Regions from separate parts of the Homo sapiens genome. Here region 1 is linked to region 2. Evidence: fine-mapped expression QTL. Tissue or cell type: whole blood. Region 2 holds a variant in brackets; the other region holds the start of a gene. All regions are shown on one strand. Distances are from middle to middle.

Region 1 (8,106 bases), 86 kb before region 2:
CTTTGGGAAGCTGAGGAAGGTGTGGGGGAAAGAGAGATCAGACTGTTACTGTGTCTATATAGAAAGAGGAAGACATAAGAAACTCCATTTTAATCTGTACAAAGAAAAGTTCCTCTGTCTTGAGATACTGTTAATCTGTAACCCTAGCCCCAACCCTGTGCTCAGAAACGTGTGCTGTGTTGGCTCAAGGTTTAATGGATTTAGGGCTGTGCAGGACGTGCTTTGTTAAAATGTGTTTGCAGGCAGTATGCTTGGTAAAAGTCATCACCATTCTCCAGTCTCAAGTACCCAGGGACACAATGCACTGCGGAAGGCCGCAGGGACCTCTGCCCAAGAAAGCCTGGGTATTGTCCAAGGTTTCCTCCCACTGATACAGCCTGAGATATGGTCTCGTGGGAAGGGAAAAACCTGACCATCTCCCAGCCCAACACTCGTAAAGGGTCTGTGCTGAGGAGGATTAGTGAAAGAGGAAGACCTCTTTACAGTTAAAATAAGAGAAAGCCATCTGTCTCCTGCTCCTCCCTGGGAATGGAATGTCCCGGTATAAAACCCAATCATACATTCTATTTACTAAGATAGGAGAAAACCACCTTATAACTAAAGGTGAGACATACTGGCGGCAATACTACTCTTTACTACACTAAGATGTCTGTGTAAAGTCAAACATAAATCTGGCCTACGTACACATCAAGGCACAGGACCTTTCCTTAAACTTATTTATAACACAGAGTCCTTTACTCACATGTTTTCCTACTGACCCTCTCCCCACCATTACCCTATAGTCCTGCCACACCCCCCTCACCAAGATGGTAAAAATAGTAATCAATAAATACTAACAAAACTCAGAGACCAGTGCCGGTGTGGGTCCCCCATATGCTGAACACCAGTCCCCTGGGCCCACTTTTCTTCCTCTGTACTTTCTCTCTGTGTCTGATTTCTTTTCTCAGTCTCTCATTTCCACCTTGCAAAAAATACCCACAGGTGTGGAGGGGCAGGCCCCCTTCAGGCAGGTGGACCACTTGAGCCAGAGTTGGAGACCAGCCTGGCCATCATGGTGAAACCCCATCTCTACTAAAAATACAAAAATTAGCCAGGCAAGGTGGCACCTGCTGGTAATTCCAGCTACTCGGGAGGCCGTGGCACAAGAATCACTTGAGCCCAGAAGGCAGAGGTTGCAGTTGAGCCAAGCACGCCACTACACTCCAGCCTGGGCGACGAGAGCAAGACTCTATCTAAAAAAATTAAAAAAAAAAAAAAAAATCAATAAATGGTACTGGGGATGGGGACAGAAAGTTAAAACCCCCCTCACAACATACACAAAAACCATTTTAGAATCAACTGTCAATTTCAATGGTAGAAACATATCAATAAAGCTTTAAAGAACATTAATATAGGAGAATCTCTCAATGTTATTAGGGTATGGCCAGATATTTTAAAGAGGCCACATAAAGCACCCTATAAAGCAAACTATATCCTGCTAGGGGAACTGTAAGTGGTACAACCACTTTAGAAAACAGTTTGACATCTATTTAGACGGAGTTTATACACACTCTATGAAGCAGCAATTTTCCTCCGAGGTGCACATCTAGATATACATCTCTGCCTCCCCCATATGAGAGCACATATGAACCAAAAGACATTTACACAAATTTTCACACATGCATTATTCTTAATAATACAAGCTTTAGGTAATACAAATGTAATTAATAATAGAAAAAACTGCTATATTTTACATAATGGAATGTGATAGAAAACCTATTATACCTTTGGTCCAGCCTGCAAGAATGCTTTTTACATTTTTGAAAGACTGTAAAACAAAAAGCAAATTAGCATATGCAAGAGACCATATGTAGCCTGCAAGCCCTAAAATATTTACTGTAAATTCGCCTGATCCTTGTCATTGAGCAAAGAAAATATACTCAGATGCAACAGGAAAGACCCTCACCAATAATGAGCAAAAGAAGGCTGACACAAAAAAAGAGTGATGTACAATTCCACTGATATACAGAGTTTAAAATAGGCAAAACTGTATTAACTACAATGATAAATAATGATTAATTATATAAAGAAAAGCCTAAAATACTTTTCGGTGTGAGAATGGAAAAAGACTCACAGAACACCACTGGTGTGCTGACCATATTCTATTTCTTGACCTGGGCAATGACTGCTTATACATATATTGCCTCCATGATAATTAAATTGTACATTTAAAATATATAAATGTAGAAAAATTAACAAAGTAAAGGAAGAGATCAACCATACCAAACAGTTTACCTCCAGGAAAGGTGTTAACTCCAGACAACACAACGGGTGAATTTTACAGGTGGGTAATAAAACAAGAACGTCCACTAACACCCTATTTTCCTACTTTATACTGGAAAGTTGAGCCAATGCATTAAGATAAGAATGAATTATAAGCATTACAAAGTAAGACAGAAAATTAATGTTATTTTCAGGCGATATCATCACGAACATGGAAAAAGAGATTCAAGAAATTACATATTTAAAAAAGAAAATGCTCCCTCAGAAACTCCCAGGCAGATTTTCACATACATAGTTGGCTAGAATTGCACCATACGCCTAAGCTCATTTCCATGTCAAACCTATCACTAGCAATGGCAATTGGAACCAGCAAGATTGGCTAAGACCAACAAGGCCTTACTAAGAAACTGGGATTTGGGTCGCCTTGCCACAGGGATGAATACTTCACGAAATGGAGATTCTGTTAAGAAAGTGTGAATATAAGGCGGGCAAGCAACACTCACTATATATTAAGAAGTGAAGGCCGGGCGCGGTGGCTCACGCCTGTAATCCCAGCACTTTGGAAAGCCAAGGTGGGCGGATCACCTGAGGTCAGGAGTTCGAGACCAACCTGCCCAACGTGGTAAAACCCTGTCTCTACTAAAAATACAAAAACTAGCCGGGCGTGGTGGCGTGGGCCTGTAGTCCCAGCTACTCAGGAGGCTGAGGCAGGAGAATCGCTTGAACCCGGGAGGCGGAGATTGCAGTGAGCCGAGATCGCGCCATTGCACTCCAGTCTGGGAGACAAAAGTGAAACTCCGTCTCAAAAAATAAAAAAAATAAATAAAAAATAAAAGAAGTGAATGCAGAGGTTGGCAACATTTTCGATTTTGCCGGCCACGAGGTCTCTGTCACAACAACTCAACCGCTGCCTTTGCAGCCATAGACAATATATAATCGGAGGGTATGACTGAACTTGACCCCCCGATCTGTAAATAGCCACCCCAAGGATCAGAAGAGTAGATATATGGTTTCGAACTAATGCTGGGGGCTGTGTCGCCTTTTGCCCCAGTAACCGAGGTTCGAACCTCAACCCAGGACCCAGGGCTCCAAAGTCTCGAAAGCTTCAGCCCTCACAAGCCTTTGTACCACAGACACTGGCCCCATGCCTCTTACTCATCCGAACCACGGACCAGACACTCTACAGCGATGGACATCCTCCCAGACTCCAACATCACTGAGTTCCAAATTAAATCCTGAACCCGAAGCAGACGCCGCATCGATCCTAATCGCCACCTCCATCCTTTACAAGCAGAGTGATCCATACCTTGACAGTTAGGACACGGCCGTTGATCACTACAGACCCTTAGTCACTGTACTCACACCAAAGGCACGCGGACCACAGACAGGGGGATCACAGACTCCCACCAGGTACCTCCCAAATGCCTATACCCCGGCGCTCCCCAGTCTTCCTGCCAAAAACTATGTGGTCCAGGGTACACCACGTCCTCAGATCTCCCAAACCTTCCACTGAGACAAAACCTGAACTAGGACAAAAAACTTTCAGGGACAAAACCACACACTGACCTCTATTTTCTCCAGATACACAAGAAGGGCCTCAACGTTACACTTCCGTAAACTGCTCCTACTTCTGGAGTCCTCGCACGGGTTTATGGTCCACCTACGGCGGCCGAGGAGAACCTAAAATGTTTAAAAGAGCAAGGACAAGCGCATTTACGGCATTTCCTACTCTGTAAAATGGCCGCGCCCATAGCCGTGGCTCCTGACGGCAGCCATGTTTGAAAATTGGACGCACAGAAGGCAGTGGCAGGTTTTTGAGCCAGGAGCCAGGGAAGAAGAGAAGTCACTGAAATCGCCTCGTTTCCTGGCACTTAAAGTCTTGCGAAAGGGGGCAGATTTTCAGAGACTCAGGCTTTATCAGGCAAATATGGGGCAAGCTAAATTGCCTTTAGCGCTTTTCCATCCACTTTGTTAAATTTAAAAAAAAAGGTTTTGAAAAAGACAAGTAACAGTGCAGCCAGGTGTAGGTATCCCAGAGAATGAATTGGAAATGGAAAAGGTAACAGATCAGGTAGAAAGGGAAAAGGCAACACATCAGGTAGGCAGACACCCACGGGAAAGCGTCTGGCGAAAATTAGCTTGCAGGAAGCGGTTTTTAAGAACAGAAAAATAGCAGGTATTCGGGGGGGCGGGTGGTGAAGAAAGAAAAAAATTATAATTTTTTTTGAGACGGAGTCTTGCTCTGTCGCCAGGCTGGAGTGCAGTGGCGAGATCTGGGCTCACTGCAACCTCTGCCTCCCTGGTTCAAGCGATTCTCCTGCCTTAGCCTCCCAAGTAGCTGGGACTACAGGCACGCGCCACCACGCCCAGCTAATTTTTGTATTTTTAGTAGAGACTGGCTTTCACCATGTTGGCCAAGATGATCTCGACCTCCTGACCTCGTGATCTGCCTGTCTCGGCCTCCCAAAGTGCTGGGATTACAGGTGTGAGCCACCGCGCCTGGCCTCGAAAAAATGATTATTATTTACAAAAAAGAAGAAGAAGAAGGAGGAAGAGGAGGAGGAGAAGGAAGAGAAAAGAGGAGAAAAGAAGAGAAAAGAGGAGAGGAGAGGAGAGAAAAGAGATTTTGAGAATGAATTACGATGTGAGCCTGGCCACGACAGACTAAAGGAATTGGGCCTCCTAGAAAGGCCACTTTTAGTAAAGGTGCCAATGGGAAGAGCAGAGCCAGAATTGAGAGTATAAAAATATTGTTAAGAGTTTTTGACAAAAGTGCCAAGACAATTCAATAAGAATAGTCTTTTCAACAAGCGGCACTGGGATAATTGGATATCCACATCCAGAAAAATGAGTTAGGACCCTCAAACCATACACAAAAGTTAACTCAAAATAGATCATAGATCTAAGTTTAAGAGAAAGTATAAAACTTAGAGAAGGAAAAGGGAGATAATCCTCATGGACGTGAGTTAATTCTGAGAGGAGAGTAAAGGATGACCCACAAAACAAAATAAAATTAATAAAGTGGACTTGATTTTTTTTTAAGTTTGTGCTTCTAAACACAACATTTAAGAAAGTGAAGTGGGGCACGGTGGCTCACACCTGTAATCCCAGCACTTTGGGAGGCCGAGGCAGGCGGATCATCTGAGGTCAGGAGTTCCAGACCAGCCTGGCCAACAAAGCGAAACCAGTCTCTACTAAAAATACAAAAATTACCCGGACGCGGTGGCGCGCGCCTGTAATCCCAGCTACTCGGGAGCCTGAGGCAGGAGAATCGCTTGAATCCGGGAGGCGGAGGTTGCAGTAAGCCGAGATCGCGCCACTGCACCCCAGCCTGGGCGACAGAGCAAGACTCCTCGGTAAAGACACCACTTCGTCACCCTGAATTACTCTGATTTTTATGGGTACAATGAGAATAGTGGACCTAGGAAGAAAAAGTTTTTAAATAGAAACCTTCAGGACAGATTTGGACTTGAAAGACTGACAGGAAGTGTTTCCAGCATCCAGTTAGTCTCAAAGCAACCACTAACCTTCAACTGCACACCTGAAAGCCTCCAGCCTCATTACATTCTCAAACACAGACAAGCCCCGTCTTCCTCTAAATAAAATTGCCTTCAAATTCAATTTAAAACTTACCACAGAGGCACTCCTTTGACACTCCTCCCCCTAGACCTTTCATTCACGCCACTCCTCTTCCTAGCTCGGGCTTCTCTGTATCTGAGCCCCATATTAAATTGCAAATCTGAGCAAAAAACAGCATTCACTGAGACACACTTTCCCCAGTTTTCTATTACTGAGACTCATGAAAAGTGAACATATAGACCTCAAGCTCTGTCCGTGGGACCCTCAGTCATTAAACTCTTAAAACTAAGCCTTAACCTTTGACATCCCAAGGGTCTCTTTCTCACACCCATATTCCTCGGTGACTAAACTGAAATAAAACCCCTGAACACGGACATTCACATGCGTTTCCACTTCATGGTCGTCCCCACAAGCTCCCCATCCGGATTCACACGCAGCATCAGGCTTTCAAGGCTACAGTAGCAGCTGCCAAAGGCTGAACACGTATCAGAACCTACTTCCGATTCTGGAATTCTGGTGCTGCAACCCCATCCTTCGCCATCTCTAAGAACACCGAGAGACTGGGAGGCGGGCTTCCGGAGAGGGATATGGGACATTTCCCAAAGTCCAGGTTCTGGCTTTGAACATTTTATATGAGGTAACATAGCTGTTTTACCTCATAGAGCATATTATGTCATTTCTGATGGGAGTGACCGTAGATTATTAGTGGAGTGATAGACACGCACATCAACAGAATAGAGTCAAGAAATGGACACAAGAACAGGCAACTGATTTTTACAAATGTTCAAAATCAATTTAATGGAAAGAGGACAGTGTTTTCAATACTGTTGAATCAACTGGGCAACCATAGGCTGAACTTTAAATTAACCCTTACCCTATATACAAAGATGAATTTAAATGGATATTGCTAAATATTAAAAAGCAAAACTGGCTGGGCGTGGTGTCTCACGCCTGCAATCCCAGCACTTTGGGAGGCTGAGGTGGCCAGATCACGAGGTCAGGAGATCAAGACCATCTTGGCCAACATGGTGAAACCCCGTCTCTACTAAAAATACAAAAATTAGCTGAGCATGCCGGTGCGTGCCTGTAATCCTAGCTACTTGGGAGGCTGAGGCAGGAGAATCACCTAAACCCAGGAGGCGGAGGTTGCAGTGAGCCAAGATCATGCCATTGAACTCCAGCCTGGGTGAGAGAGTGAGACTCTGTCTCAAAAAAAAAAAAAAAAAAAAAAAAAAAAAGAAGCAAAACTACATTATTTTGTCAAAGGAAGTGGAAAAAGAATTATCAATTACAGTAAGGAAGGAATACTTAGATGTAATGCCAAAACCCCACAATCCATTAAAAAAAAAAAGGCTGGGTGCAATGGCTCACACCTGTAATCCCAGCACTTTGGGAGGCCATGGTGGACAGATCACCTGAGGTCAGGAGTTTGAGCCCAGTTTGGCCAACACGGTGAAACCCCAATCTCTACAAAAGTACAAAAATTAGTGGGACATGATGGCAGGTGCCTGTAATCCCAGCTACTCGGGAGGCTGAGGCAGAAGAATCACTTGAACCTGGGAGGCAGAGGTTGCAGTGAGCCGAGATCATGCCATTGCACTCCAGCCTGGGCAAGACAGCAAGATTCCATCTCAAAAAAAAAAGTTGGACTTCATCATAATTAAAATCTTTTTCTCTGAGAGAAAAAAAGAAAGAACCACATCTATGGAAAAATATTTGCAAGTGATATAAAACCTTTATCCAGCTGGATAAAATCTTTATCCAGCATTAATAAACAATGCTCTAAGCAGCGCACAGTGGCAAATGCCTGCAGTCCCAGCTACTCTGGAGGCTGGGACAGAAAACTTCTCAAGACCAGGAGTTTGAGACTGTAGTGTGCTATAATGGTGCCTGTGAATAGCCACTGCACTCCAGCCTGAGCAACATAGTGAGACCTTGTCTCTTAAAAAAAAAAAAAAAAAAGCCTTTAGGGAGGTGCAAATGGAAGGCCACATACAATTGGTATGTTTGTATTCATACCAATACACACACAATAGAATAGGTAAAATAAAACATTCCAGTCCTGCGTGGTGGCTCACGCCTGTAATCCCAGCACTTCAGGAGGCTGAGGCGGGTGGATCACAAGGTCAGGAGTTCGAGACCAGCCTGGCCAAGATGATGAAACCCCGTCACTACTAAAAATACAAAAATTAGCCAGGCGCAGTGGCAGGCACCTGTAATCCCAGCTACTCAGGAGGCTGAAGCAGGAGAATCACTTGAACCCCG
Region 2 (8,106 bases):
TCCCACCTCACTGCAACCTCCAACTCACAGGCTCAAGCGATCCTCCCACCTCAGCCTCCTGAGAGCTGGGACCACAGATGCATGCCATCATGCCCGGTTAATTTTTTTGTAGTTTTGGTAGAGATGAGGTTTTGCCATGTTGCCCAGGCTGGTCTGGAACTCCTAAGCTCAAACAATCTGCCCACCTCTGCCTCCCAAAGTGCTGGGATTATAGGCATGAGCCACCGTGCCCAGTCCTATTCACTGTCTTTATTATCCAGTTCCTTGGCCACAAAATATATATGATACAGAGATTGTACTTGGAAAATGCATGAACTGAGATAAAAGACAACACCGTTTGGACCAAACTGCAAAATGAAAACTTACAGATACAATGTAGACTGCTCTGATATAAAGACTTATGTCTGCCAAAATTCCTATGTTAAGGCCCCATCCTCAATGTGATAGTATTTGGAAGTGTGGTCTTTGGAAGGCAATTAGGTCAGGATGGTGCATAGAACTTCAGGAATGCAATTAGCAGAAACGTGAAAAAGCCTCTGCTTTTTGCATGACAATCTCTCTGCCACATGAGAACACAGAGTCAGCCATGGCACACCAGAAAAAAGTCCACACCAAGAACCAAAGTGGCTGGCTCTGACATGTTGAACTTTGCACCACCCAGATCTGTGAAAAGTCCATTTCTGCTGTTTAAACCACCCTATCTATGGTATCTGATATAGCTAGTCATGCTGACTAAGGTAAAGCCAATATGCTATCTCATTATAAACATGAAACAATGTTGATACACGTTATTAAACAAATTTGTGAGTCTGTACTATAAAACATGCAATATTCTAAGCTAGCTAACAGCATTAACTTGTTTAAAAAGTCTTTAGGTAAATTATCACTATTTAACAAACAAGCACACTAAATATGCCCACAGGATTTATGTATCTATACCCAATTTACAAAGAAAGTAAGACACAAGAACCTGGGTTTGCAAGATCAAACATGTTTTTTAAAAACAACTTCCCAAACAAGCAGTGCAGATAACAGGTCAACCCAAATATCAAGAGTGTAGAAATACTTCAAGAGCCATTTTGTGTAGAGCACCTGATTCTGTCGCTGTTCAGGGTGCCACTATGTAACCCACATGGACCTAGGAGGACTGAACAAAGGGGGCGAATGCGGGAATAAAAGACAAGAGACAAAAGAGTATATTTGGAAGAAGGGGTCAGGGGCACCTTGCCTGTAGTGGACAAGGGCCCTGAGCTTTACACAGCCGTCCGTATTTATTAGGCAAGAGAGATAGTGAGAAGGATGGTGGAAGAAGGGGTCAGCTGCGCAGTCCAGAGTAGGCTTGCAAGACTGCATTCCTCAAACAACAGGCTCTAGATATGGCAGTAGATAACCCTGGCACCAGGAAGTGATTGCCTCCAGCAAACCTTCTGTCAGCAGGAGCAGTCATGAGTTTGCCCACATCCTGCATTCATGATAAACAGTTTGCTGTTTGATCATATAGCCTCCAGTGGAATGCTGAGTTGGTCACGTCCCACAGGCTTTGGCTCCCTGCAATGCTGTGTTGCCAAAAGCATTATTCAGCCATCCGTCATGAATAACGAACGGTATCTGAGTCATCATCCCCTGCACATATTGATTTACGCAGTGTTATCAGACAGTGGTCAAGTGAATGAGTAGGGGTCACCCCTTACAGAGTGAGAGTAGCATGGGAGGTGAGGGAGTTCTGCAATAATGGGAGTATAAAATTAATATGCTAGTCAGTAACTGGGTAGTCCATCTGGACAAAGTAATATGTTAGGAAAGGCCCAGGAGGACAAAGGGCAAGAGGGGAGATCAAGGAGTAATGAGCATGGAGCAGCAGGGTTTGTGCTTGAAGAGCTGTGGGAATAGAATTGCACAAGAAACAGCTAAAATCCTGGCTTTGGAAGAAAAGAGAAACTAATGTAGAGGTAGTATTGTACTGACTAATACTTAAACATGAGAATTATACTATGGGTGCAGGACAACAAGGGAAGACAATTAAAAAGGAGGCGGTGTGATGATATGGGAAGAAAACAGATTTATGTCTCTATAATATTTGCTATGAAATTTATCAAACTGAATGTCCCATAAGTTCTATTTCCAGGTATATGCTCAACAACCCTACATATCAAGAGATATGTGAAAGACTGTTCTTACAATTCAATCCTTAAGAAAAAACCTGAAAATGGCCACGAAGAGGAGATGGATGAATTCATTTTGTACACACACAAAGACACCACAAAACTTTACTGATAGTACAAGAACGTTAAGGAGACGGGGTGCAGAATGAGGACCCGTAGCACAACAGGCAAAGATTTGAGAAAACAAAGAAAGCAGGAGACTCTTGTCAAGGTTTAAATATATGTTAATGGAGACACAGTATATACGATGAAAGTATCCTGGGATATCAAAAACACAACATGGAAGCAGATCTGTAAAAAGTCATTTCTGTATGTAATTGAAGTTAAGCTGTTATTAGTTTAAAATAGGATGTTATAAATCTAAAGTGTTTTCTGTAATTGCAACGGTAACCACAGAGAATGTATAGAAGACACACACAATGGAAATAAAACTATTTCAGGAAAAAAAAATCAACTATATAAAAACGAAGGCAGTAAGACAAACAGAACAAAAAAATCTAAAAGAGATATAGAAAGCACTTAACACAATGGCAATATAAGTCCTTTTCTATCAGTAATTACATTAAATGTAAGTGTTTATACTCCACAGTCAAAAGACAGAGACTGGCTGAATAAATTTTTAAAACTGGCTTCAGCTGCACACTATCCAGAAAATACTCATTTTAATTCAAAGGACACACATAGGCTGAACTGAAGGGATGAAAAAAGATATGCCCTCAAAATGTTAACCGAAAGACATCAGAGGTGGCTAAACTGATGTCAGCCAAAATAGACTTTATGTCAAAACTGGTACAAGAGACAAAGAAGGGCATTATATAATGATTAAAAGGTTAATTCACTAGGAGGATATAACAATATGTGCCTATATAGAGATCCTCAATATGTGAAGCAAAATTAACGTAACTAAAGGGAGAAGTAGTTCCACAGTAATAATAAGAGACTTCAATGGCCTATTTTTACTTATAAATAGGACAATCAGACAGAAGAAAAACAAGGAACTAGAGAACCTAAACTATATATCAAGTTGAACCTAACCTATATATGCATAACACATCACCCAAAAACAGTGCAATACAAATTTTTCAGAACTGCACATGAAACATTTTTCAAAAGAAATATCGGAAAAGAAAAAAAATTTTAAACTTTTTAAAGACTAAAATCGTAAAGCATAACTTATCCCATCATAATAAAATAAAACTAGAGATCAACAGCAGAAGAAAATTAGATTATCAA[CA/C]AATATGTGGAAACAACATACTCTTAGGCCGGTGTGGTGGCTCACGCCTGTAATCCCAGCAATTTGGGTGGCTGAGGCAGGTGGATCACCTGAGGTCAGGAGTTCGAGACCAGCCTGGCCAACATAGTGAAACCCTCAGCCAAGCATGGTGGCAGATGCCTGTAATCCCAGCTACTCGGGAGGCTGAGGCAGGAGAATCGCTTGAACCCAGGAAGTGGAGGTTGCAGTGAGCCGAGATTGCACCACTGCACTCCAGCCTGGACAACAAGAGCGTAACTCCGTCTCAAAAAACAAAAACAAACAAACAAGGACCATACTCTTAAACAGCCAATATGTCAAATTAGAAATCACAAGGGAAATTTTAAAAATCTCAAAACAAAGGAAAATGAAAATAGAACATACCAAAACTTGTGAATGCAGGAAAAACAGTGCTAAGATAGAAAATCTGCAGATATAAATGCTAACATTAAAACAGAAGATATCCAATGGAACAGAATAGGAAACCCAGAAATACAGCCACACACCTACAACCAACTGATCCTTGATAGTCAAAAAAAAATTGGGAAAAGACATTCTATTCAATAAAGGGTGCTAGAAAAACTGGCTAGCCATATATAGAAGAATGAAACTGGACTCCTATCTCTTGTCATATACAAAAATTAATTCAAGATGAATAACGACTTACATTAAGTCTTCAAGCTACAAAAATTCTAGAAGAAAATCTAGGAAAAACTTTTCTGGACAAAATACAAGTTGTTGTTTTTTTTTCTTTTTTTTTTTTAGAGACAGGGTCTTGCTCTGTCGCCCAGGCTGAAGTACAGCAGTGTGATCTCAGCTCAATGCAACCTCTGCCTACTGGCTTCAAGCAATTCTCTTGTCTCAGCCTCCCAAGTAGCTGAGATTACATGCATGTGCCACCACACCCGGCTAATTTTTTTGTATTTTTAGTAGAAACAGGGATTCACCATGTTGGTCAGGCTGGTCTCGAACTCCTGACCTCAGACCTCAAAATGATCCGCCTGCCTCAGCCTCCCAAAGTGCTGGGATTACAGGCATGAGCCATTGCTCCTGGCCCAATACCAGTTTTTTAAGAGAATTTATTCTTCATTGCTTGAGCATCACGAAAAAAATATATAGGTTTTATAAATAGTAGAGAAGTCCCTGAAGTGTAAGAAATGGGCTAAGTTTAAAATAAAGTTAGATTTTTAAATAATGATTCAGTATAACATGATGGACATGAATGTAGATAGGAGAATAGTTATTATAATACAGCATTTGTTCCAAGAAAGAAAAAAACAGTGCAATTTGAACAAAACCCAGCAAGCTATATTTAGGAAACTGAAACTTACTACAGAAAAGCAATGTATGTTATATAACAAAGAACGATCAATCTATTAAATGGTATTTCCACAATTAAGATAGTAACTTAAAAAATTATGCTCAAGATATTAAAAATTTCCAACTTAAAAACTGTAATCAATTTAACCGACAAATATATACTTTCATAGTAGGAATTAAGTCAGGTGAAACAGAAGTAAAAGGAATAACTGATACTATCAATACAACATTATGGAGTTTCTGTAAGTTTTAGGGAAACTGCTGCTGAGCTATACCATCTGTACTAAAGAAGGAAATCTTGTAAAATACATAAAACAATATGCATTCCCCAACACAACACTACCACAATAGAAACATAAAACAAAGAAAACTGAGTATCCTCAAAAATATGGAACTGATTAAATAAATAAAAACAAAGTTCATTTATAATACATGAAAATGCATCAGATGAAAGCAATGGTTGCTTAAAACGAATTTTGTGGACTTAAAAAAGATAAGCCTCATTCAACTTCATTAGCTTCCTCAAGATCAAAGTCGTACTCACTATAAACAAAAATACTGGGGAAGAAAAGTGTGGCATGAGCAGTGGTTCAGGCAACAGCCCTGCAGAGATGAAGCTGTGAACCTGGACAATGTTCTTCCCGGGAGAAATTTTTTTTTTTGAGACAAAGTCTCGCTCTTGTTCCCCAGGCTAGAGTGCATGGCGCAATCTCAGCTCACTACAACCTCCGCCTCCCAGATTTGAGAGATTCTCCTGCCTCAGCCCCCCGAGTAGCTGGGATTACAGGTGCCTGCCACCACGCCCGGCTAACTTTTGTATTTTTAGTAGAGACGGGGTTTCACCAAGTTGGCCAGGCTGGTCTAGAACTCCTAACCTCAGGTGATCCACCCGCCTCAGCCTCCCAAAGTGCTGGGATTACAGGCGTTGAGCCACCGTGCCCGGCATGGGAGAAATTCCTACACCATTCACTGCTAGCTCAAAAAAGAGGACCATTAGTATATGAGATCAACATTGCCACAGTACCCTTGAAAGATACTTTTGTGACATTTCTCAGAAACCAGGCTCTTGTGATGGTCTCTATCTGAATATCATGACAAATGCTGATCATTCTACTCTGGCTTTAATAGTTACCTCTGTATGTAGCAAGATGATGTTAAAACTCATTACTCAAAGTGCTCTCCTTCAAAAATTTTCTCTTACCCAGTAAACTCACTCCATACAATAGTCCACAAGATATTCATAACCCCAAGATGGGTTATCACAGCAGGAAAAAAGCATAAAATGTCCGACCCTAGAAATGCATTTATCCAAAGCAAGTCTCAGAGGCAAAAAATCACACAAACATAAAAGAGAATGCAAGATCAGAAAGAGCCAAGGCATAAACAAGACAGAGAAAAACACAGGAATTGGATTGTGAGGGATCTTGAAATGAGACAGTGCTCTGTCCACAGATCCCAAACTAAGAGTGTGAAGACAGAGATACGCTCCCTGTGTAGGACTAAGAATAAAGAGAGGACCTTTGTGTCAACTGTCTTTACAATTCTTATATGTAACAATCTCAGGAGACCCAACTCATTCCCGTGTCACAAACCCAAGAAGAGTGTCCAAAGAAGAACTAAGAAAATGGCTGAGGGACCTGAACAGGCAGAGAGGGCTGAAGATAGTCCAGTTCTAGGACCCCAGCTTCAAAGGAAGGGCAACCAATGTTTCCTCATCTCCTGACCAGCACTTTCAAGTATAGGAAATGGGGTGGAACCAGAAAAGTTCCAGGCACCAGGACTATGGAGCCCTCAGCTCCAATCTATATGGATCAGAGAACTGAGGATCAGATGGAATCAAGAACAGGAGGAGAGACCACACGGGAAAGAGACTTCTTTGAAAAGGCCCTTCCCATGCCACAGAGTCAAAGCATCAGAGTTCACACAATACAGATGACACTGTGGTCCATCATAACAGTCTTGTACTTTGCTCTGTTTGAGCTGCAGCAACCCCTGGAGAGTGAAAGGTAAAGTTATACGTGTCTGGAAAGCAAAGTGATAAGCAGGAAAGAAGAAAACTTCTGGAGCTCACAGAAAATCAAATTTGTTTCCCCACAGAACTCTCCCACTTGCAGAGTCTTACGCACACAATTTCATGGTACCGCTTCCATTGTGCCCATCTGAGCTCTTACCGGTGATCACGCCTTTCATGCATTCCCCACAGTTTGGGTTCCTCGCTATTTTCACTTGGCTCACCACAGTCCAGGGCTCTTTCCCTTGCTCCAACATGGAGATAATATTCAGGTCAGGAAGACAGAGTCCTGCTTATAAAAAAAGAAAGAAGATGTCCCACGGTTTTTCCAGAACCCAGCCTAATGTCTAGGTAGAAGAGAAAACACTGCAGTTGAATCTACAAAATATTTCACAAACTCATCCATTGATTGCCTCCTTCTGAATGCTTAGTGAACACTGTAAGATGAAGATATCTAGCTCTCTCCCAAGAAATACTGAATCAAAAACACAGGGATAGGCCAAGCATACTGGCTCAAGCCTGTAATCTCAGCACTTTGGGAGGCCAAGACGGGAAGATGACTTGAGCACAGGAGTTCAAGATCAGCCTAGGCAACAGAGTGAAACCCTGTCTCTACCTGGGCATGGTGTTGCACACCCACAGTCCCAGCTACTTGGAAGGCTAAGGTGGGAGGATGGCTTTATCCCAAGAAGCTAAGGTTGCAGTGTGCCAAGATCACAAGATCACACCACTGCACTCCAGCCTGGGTGACAGACTGAGACTGTGTCAAAAAAAAAAAAAAAAAGCACAAGGATAGAAAACAGGAAGAACAGGGAATTGGATATATTAACTCCGCCATAAGGTTTTACACGTACCTCAGCTCTGGAGTCACCACTAATGTACAAAGAAGGAAGCAGAATATCCATAGAAATGGGACAGTTAAAGGCCAGATGCAGCATTATGAAGCTTTTTATTTGTGAATCAACAAGGCTTCAGTCTCTGTCAAATAATGTAGGGCCTCACAAGAAACACAATAAGGAAAGTACAAAAATGCACAAGGGAAGATCCTAACTTCTGGAGGAAAACTATCCTCACCCAGGAAGCCGAGGTTCCTGTAGTTCTCCAACATCACGTCCCTGTACAAAGCTTTCTGAACAGGGTCCAGGCATTTCCACTCCTCCTGAGAGAATTCTACAGCCACATCCCTGAATGTCAAAGATCCCTGAAATGAAAAACACATTTCAATATGAGCAGTGGGTGAGCTCTTATCTTTACATAAAATGAGAAGAGGAGAGAACTGTCACATCAATTTGATTGAAGTGTGTTTTGACATATCCATTAAAAGTATCTGTGAGATAATTACGTCTCCCTGATTTTGGGTT

The links. PIP is the estimated chance that this variant, and not a neighbour inherited with it, causes the effect.
Region 1: ZNF350 starts here. The variant in region 2 is fine-mapped to the expression of ZNF350 in whole blood (INTERVAL, PIP above 0.99).

Annotation. Positions count from the first base shown.
Region 1 is chr19:51,982,942-51,991,047 of GRCh38, forward strand. ZNF350 (zinc finger protein 350) reads right to left here and starts at 3,899. Exons shown (of 5, transcript NM_021632.4): 1 at 3,829-3,899. RefSeq lists enhancers at 3,364-4,239, 3,826-4,065.
Region 2 is chr19:52,069,139-52,077,244 of GRCh38, forward strand. It overlaps ZNF841 (zinc finger protein 841), which reads right to left. Exons shown (of 7, transcript NM_001136499.2): 5 at 7,820-7,946; 6 at 6,906-7,034. Among named protein-coding and RNA genes, the nearest start is that of ZNF841, 23 kb to the right of the region's middle. RefSeq lists an enhancer at 992-2,191. The variant CA/C (reference allele first, on the strand shown) is at 3,396.